Linked DNA regions of Homo sapiens: all the other regions are linked to region 1. The links come from fine-mapping of genetic effects on gene expression. A gene starts in region 1. Each other region holds a variant in brackets. All regions are shown on one strand. Distances are between the middles of the regions. Region 1 holds the start of ZNF772 (zinc finger protein 772). Region 2 overlaps ZNF773 (zinc finger protein 773). Region 3 holds the start of VN1R1 (vomeronasal 1 receptor 1). Region 4 overlaps ZNF749 (zinc finger protein 749). Region 5 overlaps ZSCAN1 (zinc finger and SCAN domain containing 1). Region 6 overlaps ZSCAN4 (zinc finger and SCAN domain containing 4). Region 7 has its middle 7.1 kb from the start of ZNF548.

What was found. PIP is the estimated chance that this variant, and not a neighbour inherited with it, causes the effect.
Region 2: its variant is fine-mapped to the expression of ZNF772 in naive CD4 T cells (Schmiedel 2018, PIP 0.95).
Region 3: its variant is fine-mapped to the expression of ZNF772 in whole blood (INTERVAL, PIP above 0.99).
Region 4: its variant is fine-mapped to the expression of ZNF772 in whole blood (TOPMed, PIP above 0.99).
Region 5: its variant is fine-mapped to the expression of ZNF772 in whole blood (INTERVAL, PIP above 0.99).
Region 6: its variant is fine-mapped to the expression of ZNF772 in whole blood (INTERVAL, PIP 0.98).
Region 7: its variant is fine-mapped to the expression of ZNF772 in whole blood (INTERVAL, PIP 0.98).

What each region holds. Positions count from the first base shown.
Region 1 is chr19:57,475,135-57,479,201 of GRCh38, forward strand. It overlaps ZNF772 (zinc finger protein 772), which reads right to left and starts at 2,432. Exons shown (of 4, transcript NM_001144068.2): 1 at 2,143-2,432; 2 at 1,500-1,538; 3 at 526-652. The coding sequence starts at 2,175. RefSeq lists enhancers at 1,633-2,156, 1,747-2,946.
Region 2 is chr19:57,504,143-57,508,209 of GRCh38, forward strand. It overlaps ZNF773 (zinc finger protein 773), which reads left to right. Exons shown (of 4, transcript NM_198542.3): 2 at 515-644; 3 at 1,160-1,258; 4 at 2,216-4,067. The coding sequence ends at 3,282. Among named protein-coding and RNA genes, the nearest start is that of ZNF773, 6.2 kb to the left of the region's middle. The variant GTT/G (reference allele first, on the strand shown) is at 1,570.
Region 3 is chr19:57,453,158-57,457,224 of GRCh38, forward strand. It overlaps VN1R1 (vomeronasal 1 receptor 1), which reads right to left and starts at 3,983. Exons shown (of 1, transcript NM_020633.4): 1 at 1,633-3,983. The coding sequence starts at 3,329. The coding sequence ends at 2,268. The variant C/A (reference allele first, on the strand shown) is at 1,937.
Region 4 is chr19:57,443,008-57,447,074 of GRCh38, forward strand. ZNF749 (zinc finger protein 749) reads left to right here. Exons shown (of 3, transcript NM_001023561.4): 3 at 284-4,067. The coding sequence ends at 2,478. Among named protein-coding and RNA genes, the nearest start is that of ZNF749, 9.7 kb to the left of the region's middle. The variant T/G (reference allele first, on the strand shown) is at 2,453.
Region 5 is chr19:58,051,123-58,055,189 of GRCh38, forward strand. It overlaps ZSCAN1 (zinc finger and SCAN domain containing 1), which reads left to right. Exons shown (of 6, transcript NM_182572.4): 5 at 1,368-1,506; 6 at 2,307-3,509. The coding sequence ends at 2,929. Among named protein-coding and RNA genes, the nearest start is that of ZNF135, 6.1 kb to the right of the region's middle. The variant G/A (reference allele first, on the strand shown) is at 2,204.
Region 6 is chr19:57,675,426-57,679,492 of GRCh38, forward strand. It overlaps ZSCAN4 (zinc finger and SCAN domain containing 4), which reads left to right. Exons shown (of 5, transcript NM_152677.4): 3 at 616-1,116; 4 at 2,489-2,654; 5 at 2,741-3,727. The coding sequence starts at 721. The coding sequence ends at 3,480. Among named protein-coding and RNA genes, the nearest start is that of ZNF551, 4.5 kb to the right of the region's middle. The variant AT/A (reference allele first, on the strand shown) is at 1,994.
Region 7 is chr19:57,380,687-57,384,753 of GRCh38, forward strand. No RefSeq gene overlaps it. Among named protein-coding and RNA genes, the nearest start is that of ZNF548, 7.1 kb to the right of the region's middle. The variant CT/C (reference allele first, on the strand shown) is at 1,854.

The sequences.
Region 1 (4,067 bases):
AAGATGTATGTCCTAAGGGAAAGATAGAACAGCACTGGTCTGGGTAACCCATATAGAAAACTAAATATTATTAAAATAATCTCAGAGTAAGGTCTTGCAGGAATAGTGCAGTGGTCCTAGCAAGTAGCGACCATAATGGTCCCTACAATTCCTGACATAGGCAGGCCACAGGAAATGTCAGCTAAAGGAAGAGCGCAGAATCCCAGGCACAGAGGTGTCATGGATACAGACAGAGGAATTCAGACAGGGAAAGGACAAGATGGATATGACCCACTGGGCTGACAATACAATGCATAACTCCTGAATCCATGCCTGCAAGGCTCTGAGACAGCAAGCGCTGGGAATGCTCAAAAGGAGAAAGTAGGAGTGCAAACAGCCCAAGCCCAGCACTCACAGAACCTACTCCAGGCACTAAGAAATGAGACAGTGTCCACGGCTCTGATGTAGGAAGGACAAAGATGCCCTGAAAAAAAGGGGAAGGGCAGGACCCAGTCCAAGTCACTGGGGTGGATGTGACGGCCTTACCCAGAGAGGCCATAAGTGCAAAGTTCTCCAGCATCACATCACGGTACAGGAGCCTCTGAGCCTCATCAAGGAGCACCCACTCCTCCTGGGAGAAGTACACGAACACGTCCTCAAAGTTCACCTGCCCCTGCCACAATCAGGAGAGCCAAGTCCATGAGCAGCATCTCTCCCAAGAACCCCCATCCGTGCCCCCACACATCTCCCTCCTGTACACCCTCCTACCTAACTCCTCAACTCAGGAAATATCAGGACCAGATGTCATTGGTGTCTTCTCTCGCCTCATGGTCCCAATGGATCACTGTGTCTACCCATAGCAACCACAGGCAGGTGAAGAAGTTGTCACCCTCTAAGCTCTGTGCTTAGCATACAGGGCCTCACCCTTCTGTAAGCAAATTCCTCTGGGGTCACTAACATCATGCTTACCAGACAACCAAAGATGGGCTTGCCTTTCTCCTTTAAGCCCAGACGTCATCAGTCTACACTTCTTTCCATATGTACATCACTCTTTGGATCACAGTTATCTCACAACTCTGGCTCTCCACCATCACTTTCCTGGCTCACTAAATGCACTACCACTGTGAAATGAATATTCTCTTTTAACTCCCAATCTACATAATCATCTTTAAGCCATTTCAGGATGATTCCCGCCCCCTTGCTCTTGGTTCCCACCAGACATGACAGAGACCTGCAATTTCTTGAAAACTCCCTTCTCAGTCTCACCTCTAAGTATTTTGCACAGGCTGGTTCCTGTGCCTGGAACAACCTTCCAACCTTATTCCAATGGTTGGCAGAAATGGAAACCCCTCCATAAAACCCCTGGCCCGGAGTCAGGACCCTGGGCTTGGGGCTTCTCCAGAGTCCTCAGACCCAAGAGATCGGAGAGTAGCAGGAGAGTGTTCTATATAACACCACAATGCTGGAGAGCGTATTGGGTGGGGGTGGGATCGGTGAGAGCATGGACATTCTCCCCTCACCTGTATAGGGTCCACAATTACTTCTGAGTTCATGGGAACCTGTGGGGAAGAGGGAGACTATGCGAGTCAAGCAATCTTGAAGGAACCCCAAAGGCTCAACCCCATCCCATATTCCTACCCAGTTACAATGTGCCTGGGAGCTGAATGTCTACCCTCTGTGCTTCCATCTTCAAGGATACCTCTTAACTGTGTTAGCTCGGAACAGTGCTCATTATCCGCCCCCATGGCCAACAAGAGTCTGCCCTCCATGAGCAGTCTATGGAATACTTTTTAAACCCTCGGATTCTGGCTCTCCTCTGTTCAGAACCTTCCATGGCTCCCATCACCCTCAGAATAGAGACCCAGCTGCTCAGGATGATATTCCAGGTGCAATCACTTATAAAGCGCTCTGATCCTTTCAGACACTAAAGGCCCAGTTTTCCCAAATGCTCCAGCTGTGAACCATCTCTGAGCCTTTGCATACACTGGTCTCTCTGCCTGGAACGTCCTTCAACTCGTGCTGTCAAAATGGGTCCCAAACACGAGCGCCCCCACTGTTCTAGATACAGGGGCCTGAGCTGCAGTAACCCGAGGAATCGTTCATTCGAAGCTTTGGGATTCAGAGATGGGGGTCAGCGCGCAGACTCGCAGACGCAGCACCCACCTGTGCCGGGCCCATCGGCTCAGCCGCCGCCATCAGGCCTGTGGACTACGGAAGGGTGGCGACAAGTGCAGGAACCTGGGATCAGCTGTCCAGGGCCCAGCCCAGCGGCTAGGTCACTCAGGCAGCGCCACTGTCAAGCCTCAGGCCCACCTCTCTTCAGGGAAGAAGACACTCTCTCACGTTTTCCCTTTTCTGTCACCTCAGGTCTGACATTGCGTTCTGGAAACTAAACCAGTGGATTAATGGAAAAGCAAACAAAATGTCCACCCGAGGATGGTAGAGGAAGTCCCGCCCTGACGTTGGTGAGGACCAACGGAAACGCCTATTTCCTGGGTTTTCATTGGCCCAGAGCCGCCAAGTTTCCTGGGTAATGTAGTTCCCACGGCACCAACACTAGTAAGCGGCGTCTCGCTTCACCTCCAGGTTAAAAGCCCAGAGAAGACCGCCAGGGGCGCGTGGAAATGGTGTCCCTCGTCTCCAAGGCCCAGACGGAGCTTAGCTTCCTCTTGAAGGAGCCATATCTGTATTTCTGGTGAACGTCGTGTTTGACATCAAAGGAATGTTTAGAGACATGATTTCAGCCTTCCTTACGCAGAGAATGCTCATCAAAAAATAAAATGGACACACCATACACTGACGTCACTCAGATTTCTATGGCTGGAAGTTAACAAATATTGTTTTCAAATGCGTGTAGCCTGATGCTCCAGAGTTAGTTTGGCGAGCCTCAGCATTTTCTGTCAGGCACAAGAAAGAAAAGACTCCAGACACCATGATGTGGAACGTGGAGTGGGGATGTTTGGTGGCCTTGAAGTAAGTGAATAACCCTTCTGTCTGTTACCTCAGAAAATATTTATCCTGCTTATACAGCAGTGATTGTGTCAAACCCAACAAGTAATACTCTTGTTCAAGATAGTATTTCATACTCCATATACAGAGATGTATTCAATATTTTAAGTGTTTTACAAGTGTCTGAAAAGACAGAATTCATCAAATGTCATATGGCAATGAAAAGGGCAACATGAACACTTTCTGTAAAGAAGAAATAACCACCAAACTAGATGTCTATACACAACAAAATGTCTTTTATGGAAGTGTGATATAAAACTATTTGAAACCAAAAATGATAAATGTAATGGAAATACATTTACACAAAAAATAATGTTTAAAATAATACTCAAGGCCAAAGAAAGTTGATCTCAGGTGAAAAGTCTGCAATGAGAGAAGAAATGAAGATGAAAAGAAGTGCATCTTTTGATTAAAATAACAGCATATTACAGTGTAAAACATAAGTAGATATACTTATTGAGTTAGAATGATGGAATTCCCGTGCGTAACCTCAACTACATATAAATTGAAAGGAGGCTAGTTGCTCAAAGTTTTAAATTTTTTATATTTCCAAGTGGAAAGCAAATGTATTACAATCCTGTATGGCACGCTAATGTGTTAAACGTTTGTAATTTTTAGCCTAAATATAATAAATACAGTCAGCGTATATACTTTTCAAACTAGAAGAGGAAATGTTTGGAATATAAATAAATAATCAATAGAAAGGTAAAATAATAGTAAAATAAGTGGAAGAAGTGAGGCAAAGAAAAGCACAATGTAGGATATATTTAAACTGTCAACCTAAATAACAGAGATTCTTCAAAGATGTTGAGTTCATTCAGGAATGCACAGGGGATTTGCAAATCCAGGACATGCAGGCTATAGGGACTATAGGCATATCCAGAGAGCTTGAAACAAGGAGAAGCTTTCAAAGGCAAAAGGGAAAAGTATATATAATTTGTTTTGAGATAAAAAGAACATTGGTCACAGATGTTTATGGCAGAGGTTAACACCAGTTCATTAGTGGAGACAATCTGTCAGGCAAGTGTTCTACTACATCTAGAGCTGTCCTTGTAACTCCTGTAGCAAGCTGCGGTTTG
Region 2 (4,067 bases), 29 kb after region 1:
GTCAGTGCCATTGGAGGTCTAGGAAGGGATGGAGTTCTGATTGCATTTGGTGAGTGCCCTCTGGATGCCATGTGTAGACTAGAATGTGGTGACGCTAGGGGAGGCACATAAGGTGGTGCAGGGGGCAGTGGTTGTGGTACAGAGTATGTGCACATTCTAATGAGTGTAAACAGATGTCCCCAGGGACCTTGTATTGGGTGCTTCAGGGAGAACACTGACACAAATTTGATTGTATTTGGGAAACACAATCTGGGGGATCCAAGGTGAGTTGTCTGGCAAGAGAAGAGTAGGACTCTGCATACCATGCCCAGAGCTGAGATGGACTTTATCTGCCTACCTGCCTCTGCTTGCTCAGTGGGAACATGAGGAGAGAGTGGGCATCAGTGGTTCTGGGGCAGGGTCTCTCTTCTGAGATGGGGATTAAGGAAGAGGGTGAGCAGGGGTGGATGTTTAGGGGGATGCCTAAATTCCCCAGTAAGGAGACCGCAGATAAACTCAACTCTGTCCATCTTAGCAGGGCTATGTGACCTTTGAGGACGTGGCTGTCTACTTCTCCCAGGAGGAATGGAGATTGCTTGATGACGCTCAGAGGCTCCTCTACCGCAATGTGATGCTGGAGAACTTTACACTTCTGGCCTCTCTGGGTAAGGTTCTCACACCCCACCCCAGCATCCTGAGCTGGACTTGGCTTTTCCTCCTTTTCCTAGGGAGAGGTCTGTTCTTCCCAAAGCTGAACTGTGGGCACTCATTCCTTCTCCAGTATCCTGAAGTAGCTATTGTAATAGGCCTGGGCTGTGTATACTACCACCTTCTCTCCCTGAGCTGCCCCACAGCTGTGCAGGAAAGGGTTTGGGGGTCAGGAGTCTTGCAGTCAGCTTGATGGATCTTATCCCTGGTGGCCTCTCTGTGGCCTGGTGACACTGTGCAGATCTGTGGTAGTTCTATTCCCCTACATTCTGCCTGTCTCCTCTAGCCAACATACCTGGGTGTCGGTCTGTGCCAGCAATTGAGTCACCAATGTGATTGCTGTTTGACTGGGTTGTTCCTGCAAGACCCTCCTCCAAGGTTCTTTCTGTACTATTTTGTTTTCTTTCCTGTGGTCCATGATGAGATAAGTCATTCTGGCTCAGTGCTGCCACTCACCTGTCGTTTTCCTTAGGACTTGCATCTTCCAAGACCCATGAAATAACCCAGCTGGAGTCATGGGAGGAGCCCTTCATGCCTGCTTGGGAAGTTGTGACTTCAGCCATACTGAGAGGTACTTGGTGGGTGGAGCTCAGGGAGGTATGAACTCGGGTATGGGTTTGTATCATACCAGGAGTCTTTCCAGTGGGCCCAGATATTTTGATACCAAGGCAAGGTGTCGTCGCTGATTTCTATCTTTTCTTCCTCAGTCACCCATTTATATCTATTCTGATAGTTGACCCAGGGCCATTCCCCACCTCTCTGTACTCCATGTTTCACCCCATCCTCAGCAGCACCTTTCAGCAGTGGCTTTCACTGAATGTGTGGTGAGGTGGGGCGCTTATTCTTGCATAGTCCTTGGACACCAACTATTTCATTCCAGTT[GTT/G]TTTTTTTTTTTTTTTTGACAGAGTCTTGCTCTGTCGCCTAGGCTGGAGGGCAGTGGCGTGATCTCGGCTCACTGCAAGCTCCGCCTATCAGGTTGATGCCATTCTCCTGCCTCAGCCTCCTAGTAGCCAGGACTACAGGCGCCCGCCACCATGCCTGGCTAATTTTTTGTATTTTTAGTAGAGACTGGGTTTCACCATGTTAGCCTGAATGGTCTCGATCTCCTGACCTCGTGATCTGCCCGCCTTGGCCTCCGAAAGTGCTGGGATTACAGGCATGAGGCACCGCGCCCATCCTGCAGTTGTTTTTTTCTGGACCTGGATATAACCTTCTGTGCCGTGTTCCTGTGTCTCCAGCAGCCAAAACCCTGTGGAAAGCCATTTGCAGAGGATTGTGTTGGGGACTCTGCCTCTCCTCCTTGTGCTACACCACATCCTTGCATCCTTGGTGCTCATGAGGCCTCCCCAAATCTGTGAGCTAGCCAGGTTCAGCACTGCACAGCAGGCCCTTCCCCACCAAGCGCTAGCCCCCTCATTCTGCAAGCAGTCCCACACGCTAATTACCAGGTGTGTCAGACACGTGTGAGAGTGCTGCCTTCTCACACCAAAGACTACATTTACTTCATCAACATTTCTCTTCTTTCAGGTAGTTGGCAAGGAGCCAAGGCTGAGGCAGCTGCTGAGCAGAGTGCTTCTGTAGAAGTGCCCAGTTCAAACGTTCAGCAACACCAGAAGCAGCACTGTGGAGAGAAACCCTTAAAAAGACAAGAGGGCAGGGTCCCAGTTTTGAGGAGTTGCAGAGTCCACCTATCAGAGAAGTCCTTGCAAAGCAGGGAAGTTGGGAAGGATCTTCTGACCAGCTCAGGTGTTCTCAAGCACCAGGTGACTCACACGGGAGAGAAGTCACATAGGAGCTCCAAAAGTAGGGAGGCCTTTCATGCTGGAAAAAGGCATTACAAATGCAGTGAATGTGGGAAAGCCTTTGGTCAGAAATATTTACTTGTTCAGCACCAGAGACTGCACACTGGGGAAAAGCCTTATGAATGCAGTGAATGTGGGAAGTTATTTAGCCATAAGTCCAACCTTTTTATACACCAAATAGTTCACACTGGAGAAAGGCCTTATGGGTGTAGTGACTGTGGAAAATCCTTTAGCCGTAATGCTGACCTCATTCAACACCAGAGAGTTCACACTGGAGAAAAGCCTTTTACATGCAGTGAATGTGGAAAAGCTTTCAGGCATAATTCCACACTTGTTCAGCATCACAGAATCCACACTGGAGTAAGGCCTTATGAGTGCAGTGAATGTGGAAAATTGTTTAGTTTCAACTCCAGCCTCATGAAACATCAGAGAGTTCACACTGGAGAAAGACCTTATAAGTGCAGTGAATGTGGAAAATTCTATAGCCACAAGTCCAGCCTTATCAATCATTGGCGTGTTCACACTGGAGAAAGGCCTTATGAGTGCAGTGAATGTGGGAAATTTTTTAGCCAAAGCTCAAGCCTCATGCAACATCGAAAAGTTCACACTGGAGAAAAACCTTTTAAGTGCAATGAATGTGGGAGATTCTTTAGTGAGAATTCCAGCCTTGTTAAACATCAGAGGGTTCACACTGGAGCAAAGCCTTATGAGTGCAGGGAATGTGGGAAATTTTTTCGCCACAGCTCCAGTCTTGTTAAACATCGAAGGATTCACACTGGAGAAATACAATGATTGTGAGAAATCCTTTAGCTGGTGTTTCAACCTCATTCAACACCAGAAAGTTCACAGTGTAAAAAAGTCTTGAAGGTTACTAATGGAAATCCATTAGCTATACCTCCAAACTCATTCAACACTGGACAGTTCACAGAGTGGACAATGTAGTGAATATGGTAAAAGGCCTCAGCCAAAGGCCTAACCGTATTCAACACCAGAAAGTTTAGACTGGAGAAAGGCCTTAGACTGTCGCTGAATCAATATGACCTGACTTAAAGCAGAAACAGCCAGGCGTGGTGGCTGACACCTGTTATTCTCACCACTTTGGGAGGCTGAAGCGGGCGGATCACAAGGTCAGGACATCGAAACCATCCTGGTTAACACAATGAAACCACATCTCTACTAAAAATACAAAAATTTACTGGGCATGGTGGTGGGCGCCTGTAGTCCCAGCTACTCAGGAGGCTGAGGCAGAAGAATGGCATGAACCTAGGAGGCAGAGTTTGCGGTGAGCTGAGATCACGCCACTGCACTCCAGACTGGGTGACAGAGTGAGACTCTGTCTAAAAAAAAAAAAAAAAAAAATTAGCCCGGCGTGGTGGCAGGCAACTGTAGTCCCAGCTACTTGGGGGGCTGAGGCAGGAGATTTGCTTGAACCCGGGAGGCGGAGGTTGCATTGAGCCGAGATCACGCCACTGCACTCCAGCTTGGGTGACAGAGTGAGACTTCGTCTCAAAAAAAAAAAAAAAAAACAAAAAAAACCCAGAAACTCTGAGGGTGATCTTTATGAGGGAGCTGGCAAT
Region 3 (4,067 bases), 22 kb before region 1:
CTTTTTTCTTTTCTTTTTTCTTTGTTTCTTTCCCTCCCTCCTTCTCTTCTCCTCTCCTCTCCTCCTCTCCTCCTCCTCTCCTCTCCTCTCTTCTCTTCTTTCTCTTTCTCAGAATTTCACTCTTGTTGCCCAGGCTGGAGTGCAATGGCACGATCTCAGCTCACCGCAACCTCCACCTTCTGGGTTCAAGCGATTCTCCTGCCTCAGCCTCCTGAGTAGCTAGGATTACAGGCATGCGCCACCACGCCTGGCTAATTTTGTATTTTTAGTAGAGACGGGGGTTTCTCCATGTTGGCCAGGCTGGTCTCGAACGCCTGACCTCAAGTGATCCACCTGCCTTGGCCTCCCAAAGTGTTGGGATTACAGGCGTGAGCCACCATGCCCGGCCTATAAATTTTCTAGTATCTTATACAAATGAAATCCTACATTACATTCATATGGAGCATTTTTTGATATTTATACATGTTAAGCGTATTCATTTTTTGTTGATGAAGAGTATTGCATTGAATATACCACAATTTATTAATCTATTAATAAATATTTTGATTGTTTCTAGTGTTGGACTAAAAAACTAACAAAGACCCATGAACATTCATATACAAGTGTTTATATGAATATATTTAGCAGAATTGCATTTGTTATACCTCCTTGTCCATGATGGTTATGGTGTATTTTAAAGATTAACCATTTTCATAGATGTGTTGTGGTCAGTGTGGTTTTTAAATTTGCATTTCTCTAATAATTAATGATGCTGAATAAGTTTTTATATGCTTATTTGTTATCTGTATATTTGGCCAAATTTCTAAATCTTTTCCCTTTTTTTAAAAAAAAATCTTATTTTTCTATTTTAATAGAGTTTTAATTTTAGAACATTTTAAGATGTACAGAGAAATTGCAAATATAGTACAGAGATATCTCATTTACAAGCACACCTAGTTGTTACTAATATATAGTCATATATTAGTATACAGCATTATTTACAATTAGTGAAACAGTTTTGATACATTATTAAACTAAAGTACATCTTTGATTGAGATTTCCTCAGTTTTTACCAAAATACATGTTCTGTTCCAGAATTCCACCTAGGATACCACATTGCATTTATTTTATTATTTTTTATTCTTTTATTTATTTTTTTTCATGTGTCTCTAAATGTAACCACATTACAGTTAGTACTCACATTTCTTTAGGCTTGTCTTGCTTATGAGAATACTCATTTATTTTGATATTGATTTTTAATTTTTTTTTTTTTAGATAGTCTTGCTCTATTGTCCAGGCTGGAGTGCAGAAGCACTTTCTTTCTTTCTTTTTTTTTTTTTTTTTTGAGACGGCGTCTTGCCCTGTCTCCCAGGCTGGAGTGCAGTGGTGGGATCTCGACTCACTGCAACCTCTGCCTACTGGGTTCAAGGATTCTCCTGCCTCAGTCTCCTGAGTAGCTGGGATTACAGGCACCTGCCACCATGTCTGGCTAATTTTTGTATTTTTAATAGAGATGGGGTTTCACCATGTTGGCCAGGCTGGTCTTGAACTCCTGACTTCAAGTGATCTGCCCACCTCAGCCTCTCAAAGTGCTGGGGTTACCGGCGTGACCCACGGTGCCCAGCCACTTTTAGTTATTTTTATTTTTATTTTGAGTCTCCCTCCGTCACCCAAGCTGGTAAGTAATTCTCGTGCTTCACCCTCTGGAGTAGCTGGGACTACAGGTGTGTGCCACATGGTTGGCTAATTTTTGTATTTGAGACAGGGTTTTTGCCATGTTGGCCAGGCTGGTCTCGAACTCCTGGCCTCAAGTCATCTTGAGTGGATCACTTGAGGCATTTGGGAGTGCCTCAGCCTCCCAAAACGGTGGGATTACAGGCGTGAGCCACTGTGCCCGGCCTGCACATGTCTTTCTTACATGTGGACTCTCCAGGGGATTTATGCTGTTCAAGAAGCA[C/A]CTGAATCAAACTGTGCTTTAAAAATATTTTTAAAACATTCCATGATTCTTCATAGTACAAAAATGAGAAATCTCCCCTAAATCTCTAAAGAATTCCCTTTTTAAACTTTTTGATTTCCTGAACTTGTCTGAAGGACTTAACACAGTTATATAGAGTGTTCTTTGTGTAACAGTATCCATGACTTTCATTTTTAGCTCTGGTATTAGATCTTCCTGGACAAGAGCATTACTGGCCATGTGTATGTTGCTATCACAAATAACTAGTAGTTAATATTTCCTAAATCTTAGCAAGAGTTATGATAAATAGCTGAATTCCATGAAGAGAAAAGACTCATGGCATGACAACCAGATTAGGAAAGAGTGTTTTCCTTGTCCTGCAGGCAAAACAGAACTGAGAGATATGAGTATCACTCATGATGAGGACAAAAGGGCTGCGTGCTGGGAAACATGAGGCGACCAACACAGAGTTGGTCACTATCCACTGGCCTGGGTTTGCAACTACAGTTGTCCAAATTGTCAGAAAACTATGGACTGAATAGAAAACAAAAAAGGAGCTCACCAGGACCATGATGGTGTGTGTGGCTCTGGCTTCCTGGGAAGGTCTGCAGGAGAGTCTGTTGCTGTGATTGTGTTGGACTTGCTGCTTGTGTCTGTAGAGGAAGAAGACCATGGAGCCACTGGCCCAGACCATGAAGCCCAAACTCATAAAATCAGGGGAAAAATATAAGACTGCATGTAATGAGCTAAATCTCTTTGATGCTTTGTAAGAACAGTATCCATAATTGTTTTTTGCACTACTGTTTTTGCTATTCAGTGGGCCATTCACTAATAGAAGAACAGATGCATTCATCAAGACATGGGGGGCCCAGCAGAGGAGACAACAGAAGTCAATAAACCTTGGGGATCTAATCTTGATCTCCATCCACCTGCATATACTGGGGTTGAGCTTAATGGCTTGGAATCCATTGAGAAGGCAGATGGTGCTGAGGGAAACTCTTGTGCCCACCCTGTGATAATAAAAGACAAACTTACATCCAGTGTCATTCAGCAAATATTTCAATCCAAAAGCTGCCATTGTCTGAGGTATCCCTTTAAAGAAAAGGACCATGGAGTTAGCCAAGGCCAGTTGGCTGAGAATCAAGTCCGTGGGTCTCAGCTTGTGTCCAGTGAACAAAATTAAGTTATAAAAACAAAGGAGAAAGGAATTTCCCAGGATCCCAACTCCAGTCTGAATGAGGAAGCTAATCCCTGATTTTACTTTTCCAAAAGCCATTTCATCAAAATCTAGGGGATGTTGATTTTCATTGAGGTCTGAAGAATCAGTAGAATAAAAAAGCAGAAAGAAGTATCTTGTCATCAGTGGAGACAGAAGTTTTAATGTGTCTCCAACCATATTTTCTCATCTTAAACAGAAATTAAGATTGTCCCTGTTCGTGCAAAGGCAATTGCTTGTGTGTCCAACTGCAGAGAAGCAGGTGAATGAATGAGGGCTCAACCGCACAACAGATCCACAAATCAAACCTATAAAACTCAGGGCTTACACACATGCAACAAGTAAATACAAGCAAAACTAGGGAAATATATAAAAACAGAACACAGAAGAGTCAATATCATTAGAGTGATATTATACTATAGTTTGCAAAATGTAATCATGACGGAACCCTGGGTAATATGGACAGGGCTTTTTCTGTATTATTTCTTATGACTGCTTGTGAGTCTACACTTATTTCAATAAAACCTTCAATTAAGTAGCCTGGAGATATGAAAAGCAAAAATAATACACCATAAAACCTTTTCCACACTAATATTTTAGTAAACACCATTGTTATTGATGCATTGAAACAAATTTTAGGCCGGGTGCAGTGGCTCACACCTGTAATTCCAGCACTTCGGGAGGCCAAGATGGAGACCATCCTGGCCAACATGGTGAAACCCTGTCTCTACTAATAATACAAAATACTAATAATACAAAAATTAGCCGGGCATGGCGGCGCGTGCTAGTCCCAGCTACTCGGGAGGCTGAGGCAGGAGAATCGCTTGAACCTGGGAGGCAGAGGTTGCAGTGAGCTGAAATCAAACCATTGCCCTCCAGCCTGGGCGACAGAGCGAGACTCTGTCTCAAAAAAAAAAA
Region 4 (4,067 bases), 32 kb before region 1:
TCATGGCCTGTTGAAAGCCATTTATAGAGGAGTGAGTTGGAGACCCCACCTGCCCTCCCTGCATGGTACTTCTCCCTTGTGTCCTTACCACCAGGATTCCCCCACTACACACACTTCACAGGCCCACCTCTGAACACTGGGCCTTCCTCTCACTGGCCTTATTTCCTTGCCTGTGACCAGTCCTGTGCCCTCATTTGTGGGTGTGTCTCACAGACATTTGTGATGGGGCTGTCTCCTCCCTCCGGAGTTCACGTGCACTTCACCAGCATTTCTGTTCTTACAGGTTGTTGGCATGGAGCCAAGGATGAGGAGGTACCTTCCAAGCAGTGTGTTTCTGTAAGAGTGTTACAGGTCACAATTCCAAAGCCAGCTTTGTCCACCCTGAAGGCCCAGCCCTGCAAGATGTGTAGCTCAATTCTGAAGGACATTCTGCACCTGGCTGAGCACGATGGAACACACCCTGAGCAAGGGCTGTACACATGTGCAGCAGAGCATGACCTGCACCAAAAGGAGCAGATTAGAGAGAAGCTCACCAGAAGTGATGAGTGGAGGCCTTCATTTGTGAACCACAGTGCTCACGTGGGAGAGAGGAACTTCACATGCACGCAGGGTGGCAAGGATTTTACTGCCAGCTCAGACCTTCTCCAGCAACAGGTCTTAAACAGTGGGTGGAAGCTGTACAGGGATACCCAGGATGGGGAAGCCTTTCAAGGTGAACAGAATGATTTCAACTCCAGCCAAGGTGGGAAAGACTTTTGCCACCAACATGGGCTGTTTGAGCACCAAAAAACCCATAATGGGGAGAGGCCTTATGAGTTCAGTGAATGTGGGGAATTGTTTAGGTACAACTCCAACCTTATTAAATATCAGCAAAATCATGCTGGAGAAAGGCCTTATGAGGGCACTGAATATGGAAAGACCTTTATTAGAAAGTCCAACCTAGTTCAGCACCAGAAAATTCACAGTGAAGGCTTTCTTTCAAAAAGGTCTGACCCCATTGAACATCAGGAGATTCTCAGTAGACCAACACCTTATGAATGCACCCAGTGTGGGAAGGCCTTTCTTACACAGGCTCATCTGGTTGGTCACCAGAAAACCCATACTGGAGAACAGCCCTATGAATGCAACAAGTGTGGGAAGTTTTTTATGTATAACTCCAAACTCATCAGACATCAGAAAGTTCACACTGGGGAGAGGCGTTACGAGTGCAGTGAATGTGGGAAATTGTTTATGGACAGCTTCACACTCGGTAGACATCAGAGAGTTCATACTGGAGAAAGGCCTTTTGAATGCAGCATATGTGGAAAATTCTTTAGTCACCGCTCCACACTCAATATGCACCAGAGAGTTCATGCTGGCAAAAGGCTTTATAAGTGTAGCGAATGTGGGAAAGCCTTTAGCCTCAAACATAATGTTGTTCAGCATCTGAAAATTCATACTGGAGAACGGCCTTATGAGTGCACTGAATGTGAGAAGGCCTTTGTTAGAAAGTCCCACCTAGTTCAGCACCAGAAAATCCACACTGATGCATTTTCAAAAAGGTCTGACCTCATTCAACACAAGAGGATTGACATTAGGCCAAGGCCTTATACATGCAGTGAATGTGGGAAGGCCTTCCTTACACAGGCTCATCTGGTTGGTCACCAGAAAATCCATACTGGAGAACGGCCTTATGAATGCACTCAATGTGCGAAGGCCTTTGTTAGAAAGTCCCACCTAGTTCAGCATGAGAAAATCCACACTGATGCATTTTCAAAAAGGTCTGACCTCATTCAACACAAGAGGATTGACCTCAGGCCAAGGCCTTATGTGTGTAGTGAATGTGGGAAGGCCTTCCTTACACAGGCTCATCTAGATGGTCACCAGAAAATCCAGACTGGAGAACGGCGTTATGAATGCAATGAATGTGGGAAATTCTTTTTGGACAGCTACAAACTTGTTATTCATCAGAGAATTCACACTGGAGAAAAGCCTTATAAATGCAGCAAATGTGGGAAATTCTTTAGATATCGCTGTACACTGAGTAGACATCAGAAAGTTCACACTGGAGAAAGACCTTATGAGTGTAGTGAATGTGGGAAATTTTTTAGAGATAGCTACAAACTCATTATTCATCAGAGAGTTCATACTGGAGAAAAGCCTTATGAATGCAGCAACTGTGGGAAGTTTCTTAGATACCGCTCTACATTCATTAAACATCATAAAGTTTGCACTGGGGAGAAGCCTCATGAGTGCAGTAAATGTAGGGAATTGTTTAGGACTAAATCGAGCCTTATTATACATCAGCAGTCTCACACTGGAGAAAGTCCTTTTAAGTTAAGGGAATGTGGGAAAGACTTCAACAAATGTAATACTGGTCAGCGCCAAAAAACTCACACTGGAGAAAGGTCTTATGAGTGTGGTGAATCCAGCAAAGTGTTTAAATACAACTCCAGCCTCATTAAACATCAGA[T/G]AATTCATACTGGAAAAAGGCCTTAGTGGAGTGAATGCAGGAAAGTCACCAAAACTGTCACCTCATTCAGCACCAAAAGGTTCACATCGGACCAAGAACCTATTAATATATGTAAATCTAATGTTGAAAGAGTTCAGATGGAAATCTGCGAGGATTTCCTGCTGGGAACTACATTAAAAACATTTATGTCCAGGCGTGGTGGCTCACGCCTGTAATCCCAGCACTTTGGGAGGCAGAGGTGGGTGGATCACCTGAGGTCAGGAGTTTGAGACCAGCCGGGCCAACATGGTGAAGCCCCATCTCTACTAAAAATACAAAAATTAGCTGGGCATGGTGGCAGGTGCCTGTAATCCCAGCTATTCAGGGGACTGAGGCAGGGAGCATCACTTGAACCTGGGAGGCGGAGGTTGCAGTGAACTGAGATTGTTCCATTGCACTCCAGCCTGGGTGACAGGGCGAGACTCTGTCTCAAAAAGAAAAAAATTATAATTGTGGCAAATTACAGGTAACTTAAAATCTACCATCTTAACCCATATTTAACTGTACTGTTCAGTAGTGTTAAGTCATTCGCATTGTTGTCAATTAATATCCAGAAGTTTTTTCAACTTAATGAAACTAAAACATTATACCCTTTAAACCAGGGGTCCACAACCCCCAGGCTGCAAACTGGTACCAGTCTGTGGCCTGTTAGGAACCGGGCCAGCATCACTACCTGAGCTTCACCTCCTGTCAGATGAGCAGCATTAGATTCTCATAGCAGCCTGAGCCCTATTGTGAACTGTGCCTGTGAGGGATCTAGGTTGTGTGCTCCTTATGAGAATCTAACTAATACCTGATGATCTGAGGTGGGACAGTTTTATTCTGAAACTGTCTGCCCCCTCCTCTGTCCCTGATGCGTGGAAAAATTGGCTTCCATGAAACCAGTCCCTGGTGCCAAAGAGGTTGGGGACCGCTGCTTTAAACTACTCCTCTTCCTCATTCCCTACGCCAACCAGCCCCTGACAATACTACTGTATGAATTTTACTATAAATATCTCATATGAGGAAACTTAAGTTTTAGTCTTTTGTGACTTATTTTGAGGCTTATTTCCCTAAATGTCTTCAAGGTTTATCCATGTTGTAGCATAGCTTATGATTTTCATCTTTTTTAAAGGCCGAATAAAATCCCATTGTAGTCATGTGTCGCCTAACAAGAGGACTGTGTTCTGAGTAATCATCTTAAGGTGATTTTGTCATTGTGTGAACAAAGAGTGTACTTACACAAACCTGAAGGGCACAGCCTATTACGCACCTAGGCTATATGATATGGTCCATTGCGCCTCAGATATAAACCTTAACAGCATGTTACAGTATTGAATATTGTAGGTAATTGAAACACAATGATAAGTAAATGTGTATCTAAACATATCTAAGTTTCCAAAAGGTACTGTAAAAATGTATGAAAAATGGTAAAAACTTTATAGGGCACTAACATGAACGAAGCTTGCGGGACCCCTCTGGTTGAGTCAGGGAGTGAGTTGTGAGTGAATGTGAAGCTCTAGGACATTACTGTACCCTATTGTAGATGTTATAAACATTGTACACTTAGGCTACTCTAAATTAATTTTTTCTTTAG
Region 5 (4,067 bases), 580 kb after region 1:
TCTCTCCACACATACATGCCACCCACTCTTCTCTCCACGCAGCCCCTCTGCTGCCCTTGATTAGTCACAGACGCCAAGGTGGGTGAAGTAGGGAAGAGCCTGACTGTCCACAATGGCCCCCAGTAGCCAGGTACCAGGAAGAGGCGTAAAAGGGAGTCCCGCCTTTACTCCTATAGATGGTGGCTCCTCTGGTTACGATTTCAGAATTCAACATGTTTTACAATCAAAACTAGCATTTGATAAGAAATAAAAATCAATAACCCAGCCAAACACACCATCCACATACTCCCAACGTGAGAGCAGGAAGAATCTTGTGCCTTAACTCCCTTCCTGCCATCAGCTCCCTCCCTCCCTCCCTCCCTCCTCCGTCTCTAGCCCAGCAATCCCTCTACTCCAGTTTTGCCCAGCTATTGGGAATCTTGGACAGCTTCCTTAGGCCCCTGTGCATCCAGGTAGGGTTGGGGCAGCAGAAAGCGAAGACCCACTCAAGACAGACCTTGTCAGTGCGTGCTTGACTCCTGGTCTTTTCTGATGCTTTGTTTGACTCAACATACCTCCTCCAACAACCTGATTTGCATTGATAAGTGTCACTGTGTTTTCCTTTGACACGACTCCGTTGCAGTTTGCCGAGCCCTTGATGGTACCAGGCTCTGGGCACGTAGCACCCACATCCTCACTGGAAACCCAGAGAGCTAAAGCTCCTCATCCAGGGCCACACAACAAGCAGGGCTGGAGCCTGGACACCAAGCCAAGCCCCTCTGTTTCGAATTCTTGCTCTTCAACCACAGCTCAGTCTCCTCCCAGGAAGTGGTGATCCCCGCTTTGGGCGGGACACGGTTAGGTGCATCAGAGGTCATAGGTCGCAGGTGGGATGTGAAGTCTGTGAAGTCGCCCACTTCCTCTGGGCTTGTGGGCAAGGACAGTGCAGCCTTGGGGGACGGGAGTTAGGAGCCCCAGCTTGTAACAGTGACCCGAGCTGTGGCACAGGTCCCCTGGCTCCATCTAATGCTCTGTTGTCACTGTCCTGAAATGATCAACGATCTTTGAACAAGGGGATTTGCATTTCCATTTTGTACAGGGGCCCCTCGAATTCTGTCTCAGGTCCTGTTAAGAGCTCTTTAGGAGTGGTTATTTATTTTTTGTATAAGCAGAGTCTTGCTGTGTTGCCCAGGCTGGTCCCAAACTCCTGGCCTCAAGCAATCCTCCAGCATCAGCATCCCAAAGCACGGGAACAACAGGCGCGACACCGCGCACTGCCCTGGGACAGAGCCTTTGGGGATGACGCCCGTTCCTTGGTTGTTCGGTGGTGGTGGGGAGGATGGCTCCTGAGGGGCAGCTGCCGAACAGTCCTGTGCTTGCCATTCTAGGCGTCTGAGCTGATTCTGGATGCAGTGGCAGCAGCCCCAGCACTCCCCGAGGAAAGTGAGTGGCTGGAGACTACCCAGCTCCAGCAGAGTCTGCACACCAGGGCGGAGGCCGAAGCGCCCCGCGCCCCTGGCTTGCTGGGTGAGTCTGGCTCCTGTGTGGATTAAGGGTTGGAAATGGAGTTTGGGACTTCAACCCAAAGCCACAGACTTTGTTAATGGGTTGAGTTGGGTGCTTCGGTGGTGAACTCCACACTTCCCCCAGAAAGCATGCACACCTCCTGTGAGGACTGAGATCTGGGGCCCCTAGAACCACCATGTACATCGTTCACCCTACGAGAAGGGCCTCAGCCTCCGCACCTGAACGGCAGCCAAGGCAGACAGTCTGAGAGTGTTGGAGCACGGGGTTACCCAGAGGGCCAGCCAGGTAGGAACAAGGGCCAGTGCTGTGGGATCTGCTCCCAAAACATGTGCCTTTTTTTTTTTTTTTCGAGACAGAGTCTTGCTCTGTTGCCCAGGCTGGAGTGCAGTGGTGTGATCTTGGCTCATTGCAACCTCCGCCTCCTGGGTTCAAGCGATTCTCCTGCCTCACCCTCCTGAGTAGCTGGGATTACAGGCGCACACCACCACGCCCAGCTAATTTTTGTATTTTAGTAGAGACGGGGTTTCACCATGTTGGTCAGGCTGGTGTCTAACTCCTCACCTCATGATCCACCTTCCTCGGCCTCCCAAAGTGCTGGGATTACAGGCATGAGCCACTGCACCGGCCACATGTGCCCTTGTATCTTAAAGGACAGAACGGAGGACACAGGGGCCGTATTGAGCAGAGGAAGGGCCTG[G/A]ACTTGGCTCAGTCACTGGGGTCCTCCGTGCCCCTGGGGAGCACAGGGAGATGCCAAGGCCATCCACTCACTACAGGTGACCCATCTCCCTCGCCCTCCACAGGGTCCCGGGCCCGCTTGCCTCTGAAGCCGAGTATCTGGGACGAGCCTGAGGACCTTCTCGCAGGGCCCTCCTCAGACCTGCGGGCAGAAGGGACTGTGATCTCGAGCCCCAAGGGTCCAAGTGCTCAGAGAATCAGTCCCCGAAGGAGAAACAGGAACACTGACCAGAGCGGCCGCCACCAGCCATCCCTCAAGCACACCAAAGGTGGTACCCAAGAGGCTGTTGCAGGCATCTCGGTAGTGCCGCGTGGGCCCCGAGGTGGGCGGCCCTTCCAGTGTGCCGACTGTGGGATGGTCTTCACCTGGGTCACCCACTTCATCGAGCACCAGAAGACCCATCGCGAGGAAGGGCCCTTTCCGTGCCCCGAGTGTGGCAAGGTCTTCCTGCACAACTCCGTCCTCACTGAGCATGGCAAGATCCACCTGCTGGAGCCACCGAGGAAGAAAGCCCCCCGGAGCAAGGGCCCCCGGGAGTCCGTCCCACCCAGGGATGGAGCCCAGGGCCCAGTGGCCCCTCGCAGCCCCAAAAGACCCTTCCAGTGTAGCGTCTGCGGGAAGGCCTTCCCCTGGATGGTCCACCTCATTGACCACCAGAAGCTCCACACGGCCCACGGCCACATGTGAATGGCCAGCCTCGGGCCTCGGCCACCCGGCCCTGAGTCCCTGGGGGGAGCTGATGGGCCCCAGAAGATGGGGGACATCCCCCAGCCCCACCAACCCCTGGCCACCTTGGGACTCCTCTTGAAGGACACAAGCTGTTTCTCGGAAGACCCTGGACACCTGCTCCGAAGCCAAGCACGGGATGGGGCTTCCCAGGGTCTCAGCTGAGAAGCAGCAGTTCCACAGCACAGCCTGGTCAGTCCTGCGCACTATAGTTTTGCAAGTGGCTTGAAGAGGAGTTTCATTCGCGTCCCATCTTTCAGAAGCCTTGTCCAGGTCTCCCTGTTAGCACCTGACTCAGCGGCAGCTTCTGCCGCTGGGTTTTCATTTCACTGTGGATATCCCTGAGGCCATGAGGGTGGGAGCCGGCCTGGGCAGCTCCAACTCCAGAGAAGGGTACAGCTGACCCCGGCTGCCCTCCTGCCAGCTTAGCCCCCTTGGAACCTAACAGATAAACAGGGTTTTGTTTTTTTCCTTTTTTGGGTAAAGTACATGCAACATAAAATTTACCATTTCAGTCATTAAAAATGAACAGTTCAGTGGCATTAAGCACATTCACAACACTGTGCAACTACCAGCACTCTCTAGCTCCAAAGATGTTTTCGTCTTGCCCAGAAAGAGAGCCCACAGTCCTCAGCACGCCTTCGCCATTCCTGCCCGCCCTGACAACCAGAATCTGCTTCCTGTCTCTGAGGATTTCAGGCGCAGTCTTTAGGCCTGACCAAAACTGACCTGCCTGTATTTTGTTTGACTTACAGAAGGATTTTTTTTTTAGATAGATGCCAACATTTGTTTAAACCATAAAAATCTGGCTTTCTGGTCTGCCAGGAAGGATCAGATGGTCTCCAAAGAGTGGGCCCGCCTCTCCTGCTAGGCTGGAGCAGAGTGTGGGCAGGCGGTGACGTCACAGCGGGGAGCCAGCCTCGGACTCGGCTTCTCACCCGTCCCCAACTCATTGTTGTCGGACACTCGTCCCCTTTCAAGCAAAAGCCTTAAAAGTTTTTGCCTTTTTCTTTTTCTCCTCCCGACTTCACTTGGAAACACAGTGTTGGGCTGACTGTGAATCCGCACAGGCAGAGACATTTTTCCAAGTCGCCTTCTA
Region 6 (4,067 bases), 200 kb after region 1:
GCATGAGCAACCACACCCGGCAAGTTTTGTATTTTTAGTAGAGATGGTGCCTCACCATGTTGGCCAGGCTAGTCTCGAACTCCTGACCTCAAGTGATCCGCCCTCCTCGGCCTCCCACAGTTCTGGGATTATAGGAGTGAGCCACTGTGCCCAGCCAAGGATATTTCCTAATAGTTCTAGTTTATTAAGTGCCTTTTTCAGGAATAAACATTGGCATTTAAACATTTTAAATGCATTCATTGAGATGATTTTATTATGTTCTTGTATCCATATCCCGTTAACGAAGTAAATTGCATTGATTTTTGAATTTTAACCCAAACTTCCTGCATTTTGGAAATGAACACCATTTGCGATGTATATGTGAGTAGATTTTATTTTCAAATATTTTGTTTTGGATAATTTTAATGTATTTGTAAAATTTTGTTATCAGGAAGTGCTGACCTCAGTAACTAAAGTGGGTAGTGCTTCCTCTTATATGCTCTGGGAGAGTTTATGTTAAGTTATAATTATTTCTTTGAATTCATCCATAGAGCCATGTAGGCCTAACTTTTTGGTTGATTTGTCTTTAATTATGCCAGTGGTGCAATTAATTACTCATCTCTTTTCTATTTCTAGCTTGCAGTTTTAAAGAATCCACCAACTGTTGAAACAAATCCCTAGAGACACAAGGCAAGAGACTGAATCATCAAAGTAAAGTCTCTCTGAGAATTATTGCTAAGAATGGCTTTAGATCTAAGAACCATATTTCAGTGTGAACCATCCGAGAATAATCTTGGATCAGAAAATTCAGCGTTTCAACAAAGCCAAGGACCTGCTGTTCAGAGAGAAGAAGGGATTTCTGAGTTCTCAAGAATGGTGCTCAATTCATTTCAAGACAGCAATAATTCATATGCAAGGCAGGAATTGCAAAGACTTTATAGGATCTTTCACTCATGGCTGCAACCAGAAAAGCACAGCAAGGATGAAATTATTTCTCTATTAGTCCTGGAGCAGTTTATGATTGGTGGCCACTGCAATGACAAAGCCAGTGTGAAAGAGAAATGGAAATCAAGTGGCAAAAACTTGGAGAGATTCATAGAAGACCTGACTGATGACAGCATAAATCCACCTGCCTTAGTGAGTACAGGGTTCTAACTTCTGGGATGAGAGACAAAGGAAAGTAAGGAATAAATCACAGTCAGTTAGAGTTGTCTGGAAGTTAGAGAAGCTATTGGAGGTCCAGTTATTAGTCAGCTCACACTCTCCCACCATTCTCACAAAGAATAATCTTCAATGTCCTAAGTTCTCAAGAAAAAAAGCAAAAAGGTATATATCTGTTTATTCTGTAGGACATATAGGAGCCAAACATATTGATGTTTGATTAACTTAATTTTAGTCTGCATAATGGCAGACTCTGAGAAATTGACTTTTTGGCATGATATCAGCTCACTGCAACCTATGCCTCCCAGGCACAAGTCATTCTCGTGGCTCAGCCTCCAGAGTAGCTGGGATTACAGGCGTGCTCCACCAAGGCCGGCTAATTTTTGTATTTTTAATAGAGACAGCGTTCCACCATGTTGGCCAGGCGGTCTCGAACTCCTGGCCTCAAGTGATCCGCCTGCCTTGGCCTCCCAAAGTGCTAGGATTACAGGTGTGAGACCAGCCTGAAATTGACATTTAAATGAAGACATCAAGGTTGAGGAAGAAATGTCTTGACAAGAGCTTGTTCTTCTGTCAGGGAACTCTAATCAAGAAAGACATTCTAAAGAAGCAATTACGGTAGATCCTTATTCTCAGAGCCCATATTTGCAAAATTGCTAAAATTTATTTGTAAGCTTAAAATAAATACCTGAGGCATCTTCTCCGTCATTTTCAGATATGTGCAGGTGGTAAAATATTTGATTTACCTTAGGTGCATGTTTCCAGGTGAGGTTGAACAAGGCCACAACCTCACTTCCTATTTTGGTTCCTACAGTGTAAATAAGTGTCCTTTTCACAGTCTATTTAGTGGCAC[AT/A]TTTTTTTTTTGCTTTTTATTGATAACTTTGTTGTTTAAAGTGACACTGAAGTAAAATGCTGAAACACTGTCTAGTCTTCCTAAGTGCAGGAAAGTTGCTATGTATTATGGAGATAATACATGTGTTGGATCCTCTGAGTTCAGGATTAATCAATAATATATATTAAATGGGGTGTCTTTGAACATATACACACATAAAACAAACTCATGTATTGATCAGTTGACAAAAATAATGTAGCCAGAAGCTCACAGGAAACTAACCCTGAATTTTTCCTAGGGGAAATGATTCAGTACTTGTAAATTCAATGTCCATGTGACTTTATTAAACATAAGAGCTTGTAGTAACAAGAATAACACCATCAGAGATGGTGGACAAAATATGTGATAGCCAATACTTGAGGGAGCTTGTGAGAGCCTGTTAAGGACCACTTTTCCAAAAAGTCTTCTGTTACACAACAGATTCAGATACAACAGTGATCTGGCTTTCTTTACAGGTCCACGTCCACATGCAGGGACAGGAAGCTCTCTTTTCTGAGGATATGCCCTTAAGAGATGTCATTGTTCATCTCACAAAACAAGTGAATGCCCAAACCACAAGAGAAGCAAACATGGGGACACCCTCCCAGACTTCCCAAGATACTTCCTTAGAAACAGGACAAGGTAAGTCAGGTGAATCTGCACAACTGAGGAGTGTTCTATGTGGACCCCTTCTTAAGTACAACTTCATTGAGTGTCTATTTTCACAGGATATGAAGATGAACAAGATGGCTGGAACAGTTCTTCGAAAACTACTCGAGTAAATGAAAATATTACTAATCAAGGCAATCAAATAGTTTCCCTAATCATCATCCAGGAAGAGAACGGTCCTAGGCCTGAAGAGGGAGGTGTTTCTTCTGACAACCCATACAACTCAAAAAGAGCAGAGCTAGTCACTGCTAGATCTCAGGAAGGGTCCATAAATGGAATCACTTTCCAAGGTGTCCCTATGGTGATGGGAGCAGGGTGTATCTCTCAACCAGAGCAGTCCTCCCCTGAGTCTGCCCTTACCCACCAGAGCAATGAGGGAAATTCCACATGTGAGGTACATCAGAAAGGATCCCATGGAGTCCAAAAATCATACAAATGTGAAGAATGCCCCAAGGTCTTTAAGTATCTCTGTCACTTATTAGCTCACCAGAGAAGACACAGGAATGAGAGGCCATTTGTTTGTCCCGAGTGTCAAAAAGGCTTCTTCCAGATATCAGACCTACGGGTGCATCAGATAATTCACACAGGAAAGAAGCCTTTCACATGCAGCATGTGTAAAAAGTCCTTCAGCCACAAAACCAACCTGCGGTCTCATGAGAGAATCCACACAGGAGAAAAGCCTTATACATGTCCCTTTTGTAAGACAAGCTACCGCCAGTCATCCACATACCACCGCCATATGAGGACTCATGAGAAAATTACCCTGCCAAGTGTTCCCTCCACACCAGAAGCTTCCTAAGCTGCTGGTCTGATAATGTGTATAAATATGTATGCAAGTATGTATATTCCTATAGTATTTATCTACTTAGGATATAAGATATAATCTCCTGATTATGCTTTCAATTTATTGTCTTGCTTCATTAAAATGTAAGGCTAAGGAGAGCATGGAATTTGTCAGTTTTGTTCACTAAAGTATTCCAAGTGGTTGGGAAAGTGGAACATTTCCAAGAACCAATAAATTTCTGTTGAATAAATGAATGAATCCATAATGTTGATATCCTTTTTTAAAAAAAGAGATGGGGCCGGCCGCAGTGGTTCGGCCTCCCAAAGTGCTGGGATTACAAGCGTGAGTGACCGTGCCCGGCTTTTTTTTTTTTTTCTGAGTCAGAGTCTTGATCTGTCGCTCAGACTGGAGTGCCGTGGTGTGATCTTGGCTCACTGCAACCTCCACTTGGAGGTCCAAAATTAATCATAGACACCAAACCACAGATCCAGAAATCTCAGAGAAGAGGAAGCAGTGTAAATACCAAAAACCTACAACTAGGTACATCATATTCAAACTACAGAAGGCCAAAGATAGAGAAATTCTTGAAAGAAGATGGAGGT
Region 7 (4,067 bases), 94 kb before region 1:
CTCTCACAATCCATTTTAGTAATGGTTCCTCAGGAAACTGACTACTTCAATCTATAAAGTAAAACAAGTTCTTCACATTATACTCTCTGGTTTGAATAGTTACTTGGTTTTGTTCTTCCCCACAATGACTACCTTCTTGGTAGCCGTAGGTCTCAGAGGCATTTTCTGTTGTCCCTAAATGATTCTGCCCTTGGTGGGAGGTGGCTTTTAGGCTGGCTGGTGGCTTTCGTTCAGATGGACTGAAATCTAAGCTTGATCTAGCATCAAGTTTGGACCCAGCACTCTCTAATTTTTTTTTTTTTAGCTGTTATAGATAACAAAGGATTGAGTAATTTGCTTTTTGCTTATTAGCTTGCATTTTCTTATGCATCCAGTGAACCAGAGATTGAATATTTTGCTTTTTGCATATTAGTTTGCATTTTCTTATGCATCCAGTGTACCAACTCCCTGGGAGCTGGATCCATCTCTAAATTTCCATGGTAACTCTTACCTTTAGTAACTGAGCACAGACAGCCACAGTTCCATACCATGTATGGCCATTTGGCCACTAAGGAATCAAAGGTTTTTCATCCTCCACCCATTTTTAAATTGAGGATTATTCAAAAGTTAAAGAAAAAACTTTATTATCTCTTATTAATATATGTAAATTGTGTTCAAAATAGAAAATGAACTTCTACTTTTTTTTTTTTTTTTTTTGAGATGGAGTCTCACTCTGTTGCCCAGGCCAGAGTGCAATGGTGCGATCTTGGCTCACTTCAACCTCTGCCTCCCGGGTTCAAGTGGTTCTCCTGCCACAGCCCCCTGAGTTGCTGGGATTACAGGTGTGCACCACCTTGCCTGGCTAATTTTTGTATTTTTAGTAGAGACGGGGTTTCACCATGTTGGCCAGACTGGTCTCAAACTCCTGACCTCGTGATCCGCCCGCCTCTGCCTCCACCTCCCAAAGTGCTTGGATTAGAGGTGGAGCCACCGCACCCAGCTTTTTTTTTTTTTTTTTTTTGAGACAGAGTCTTGCTCTGTTGCCCAGGCTGGAGTGCAGTGATGTGATCTCGGCTCACTGCAACCTCAGCCTCCTGGGTTCAAGCAATTCCCCTGCCTCAGCCTCCTGAGTAGCTGGGACTACAGGTGCGCACAACCACGCCCGGCTAATTTTTTATATTTTAGTAGATATGGGGTTTCACCATATTAGCCATGATTGTCTCAATCTCCTGACCTTGTGATCTGCCCGCCTTAGCATCCCAAAGTGCCAGGATTACAGGCATGAGCCACTGCGCCCAGCCGAAATTCTATTTTTATATTTGTGTATTGTCAATACTAAAGCTAATTTGAATAAAGTCTTATAAACAAATCCATCCAATTTTAATCAGGTTTTGACCACACAAGGTAAGATTTTTCCGTAAACCTTTTATACCTTCTTACAAATTTTTTTCTATTTTTCTCTTTCCCCAATTTTTAGATCTATTTACCTTTGTTTGAGACAGAATCTCACTCTGTCACCCATACTGGAGTGCAGTGGTTTGATCTTGGCTCACTGCAACCTCCACCTCCCAGGTTCAAGTGATTCTCGTGCCTCAGCCCCCCACATAGCTGGGATTACAGGCACACACCACCATGTCCGGCTAATTTTTGTATTAGTAGAGATGAGGTTTCTCCATGTTGGCCAGGCTGGTTTCAAACTCCTGGCCTCAAGTGATTCACCCACCTCAGCCTCCCAAAGTTCTGAAATTATAGGCTTGAGCCACTACGCCCAGTCCTAGATCTATTTACTTTTATCTACATTATTTTCCTTTCATTTTGAAACGACCTTTACATAACCCCTAAACTAGACAGAATTCCTTTTTTTTTCTTTCTTT[CT/C]TTTTTTTTTTTTTTTTTGAGAGAAGTCTCACTCTTGTTCCTCAGGCTTGAGTGCAATGGCCCGATCTTGGCTCACTGTAACCTCTGCCTCCCGGGTTCAAACAATTCTCCTGCCTCTGTCTCCCAGGTAACTGGGATTAAGGCACCTACCATCACGCCTGGCTAATTTTTGTATTTTTTTTTAGTAGAGACGGGTTTTCACCAAGTTGGCCAGGCTGGTCTCGAACTCCTGACCTCAGATGATCTGCCTGCCTTGGCCTCCCAAAGTGCTGGGATTACAGGCGTGAGCCACCACGCCCGGCCCAGAATTACTTTTTCTTTAGCAAAAACCACATCTTCATTTTTTAAATATAAGCTTCTTCACAAAAAACACATAGTAAACATCATGGCACTGGGCTGCACAATACTTTGATAGAGCACGTTGATGTAAAGACATTTTTGTAAGTGTTTAGAGCATGCCTTTTATATCTAAACATGCAAAGAAATGAGTAGCCTCCTGTCGTAATAACCATTTACTGTAAACAACTGCCACCAGCTGCTTCTGACACTGCAGCTCTTGCTTGTGACAGCCATTACGCACAAAAACGTCAAGTTCTTTCACAGGACAAAGTAATCTCTGGTACCCCCCAAAACCAATGATATCAGGTAATGCACTACAAAAGAAGGCAGAATTTTAGACCTGAGATAAATCTGTCCTCTTAAAACTCTTGAGTGAGAGAGAGAGAGAGAGAGAGAGAGAGAGGGAGAGAGATTTCCTCATCTGGTTAGTGTAGATAGCAGGTTGGCTTCCTGAGCTGGTCAGTGCAGTAGTGGGTTAGAGTTCTGTTTTATATTTGGCTTGGCCATTGTTGATTTCTATAGTCAATTTCTTACATGTAAACAAGGAAGATAGCTATAATATTGAGATTTCTTGTTTTCTTAACTGGTCTTAGGTTGAAAATTGATTTTTCATTCTCCTCCCCGCTCCCCCCTCCCCCCACCATCCCATTCTTCTGCCTCTGCCGGATCTTCAGCTGGGTAGCATTTTGGTTTTGTTTGTTTTTTAACCTGGAGGATGTCCCCAAATATCAAAACCTAAACTTCTGATTCTTAGAAGTCCTCCCTTCGATGAGTTGCTAGTTTTATTTCTGAACATGAACTTACCAAAACATCCCCCAGAAATCCCCTGGTCTCAGACATAACTCTCTATGCTTCCCATTCCATGGCAGCAACTCAGCCTAACTCATCCAAAGCAAAAAAGCAATCCCTTCTTGCTTAAGTGACACAAGGATCCCCAGATGAACAAGTAGCTGTATCACCCTTCAATTAAATGTAATAATATTTACTTCTGGTGGAACCTCTCCTTCCTTGGAACAAAGGGCCCCCAACCAGCAGAATTTACAATTAAGAAGAAGTGGCCAGACACAGTGGCTCAAGCCTGTAATCCCAGCACTTTGGGAGGCCGAGGCAGGCAGATCATAAGGTCAGGAGTTCGAGACCAGCCTGGCCAACATGGTGAAACCCTATCTCTACTAAAGATACAAAAAATTAGCTGTGCGTGGTGGTGCGTGCCTGTAATCACAGCTACTCGGGAGGCTGAGGCAGGAGAATTGCTTTAACCCGGGAAGAGGGGGTTGCAGTGGGCTGAGATCATGCCATTGCACTCCAGCCTGGGCGACAGGGCAAAAAAAAAAATTAGCCGGGCATGGTGGCGGGCGCCTATAATCTCAGCTATTCAGGAGGCTGAGGCAGAAGAATCGCTTGAAGCCGGGAGGCAGAGGTTGCAGTGAGCTGAGATCGCGCCAATGCACTCCAGCCTGGGTGACAGAGCAAGATTCTGTCTCAAAAAAAAAAAAAGAAAAAAAGAAAAAAGAAGAAGGGTAGCAGAAATTCTGTGAATGAGTTACTAGGTTCAAAAATGAGGATGCTCAATATAATGCATAGGTTCAGAAAAAAATTACGATGAAAAGAATTGTCAAATTTTGTAACTGATACTTGACCTGGTTAAATTTGAATTATTTCTAATTCCCTATGTATATGTGCAGTGAGATAAAAGATAAATATTGTATGTGACATACTCATCATAAAATTATTTGTTGTTTATCTGAAATACATTCTAAATCAGGGGTCCCCAACCCCTGGGGCCACAGATGAGTACTATGGCCTGTTAGGAATGGGGCCATATAGCAGAGGGTGAGTGGCAGATGAGTGAGCATTGCTGCCTGATCTCCGCC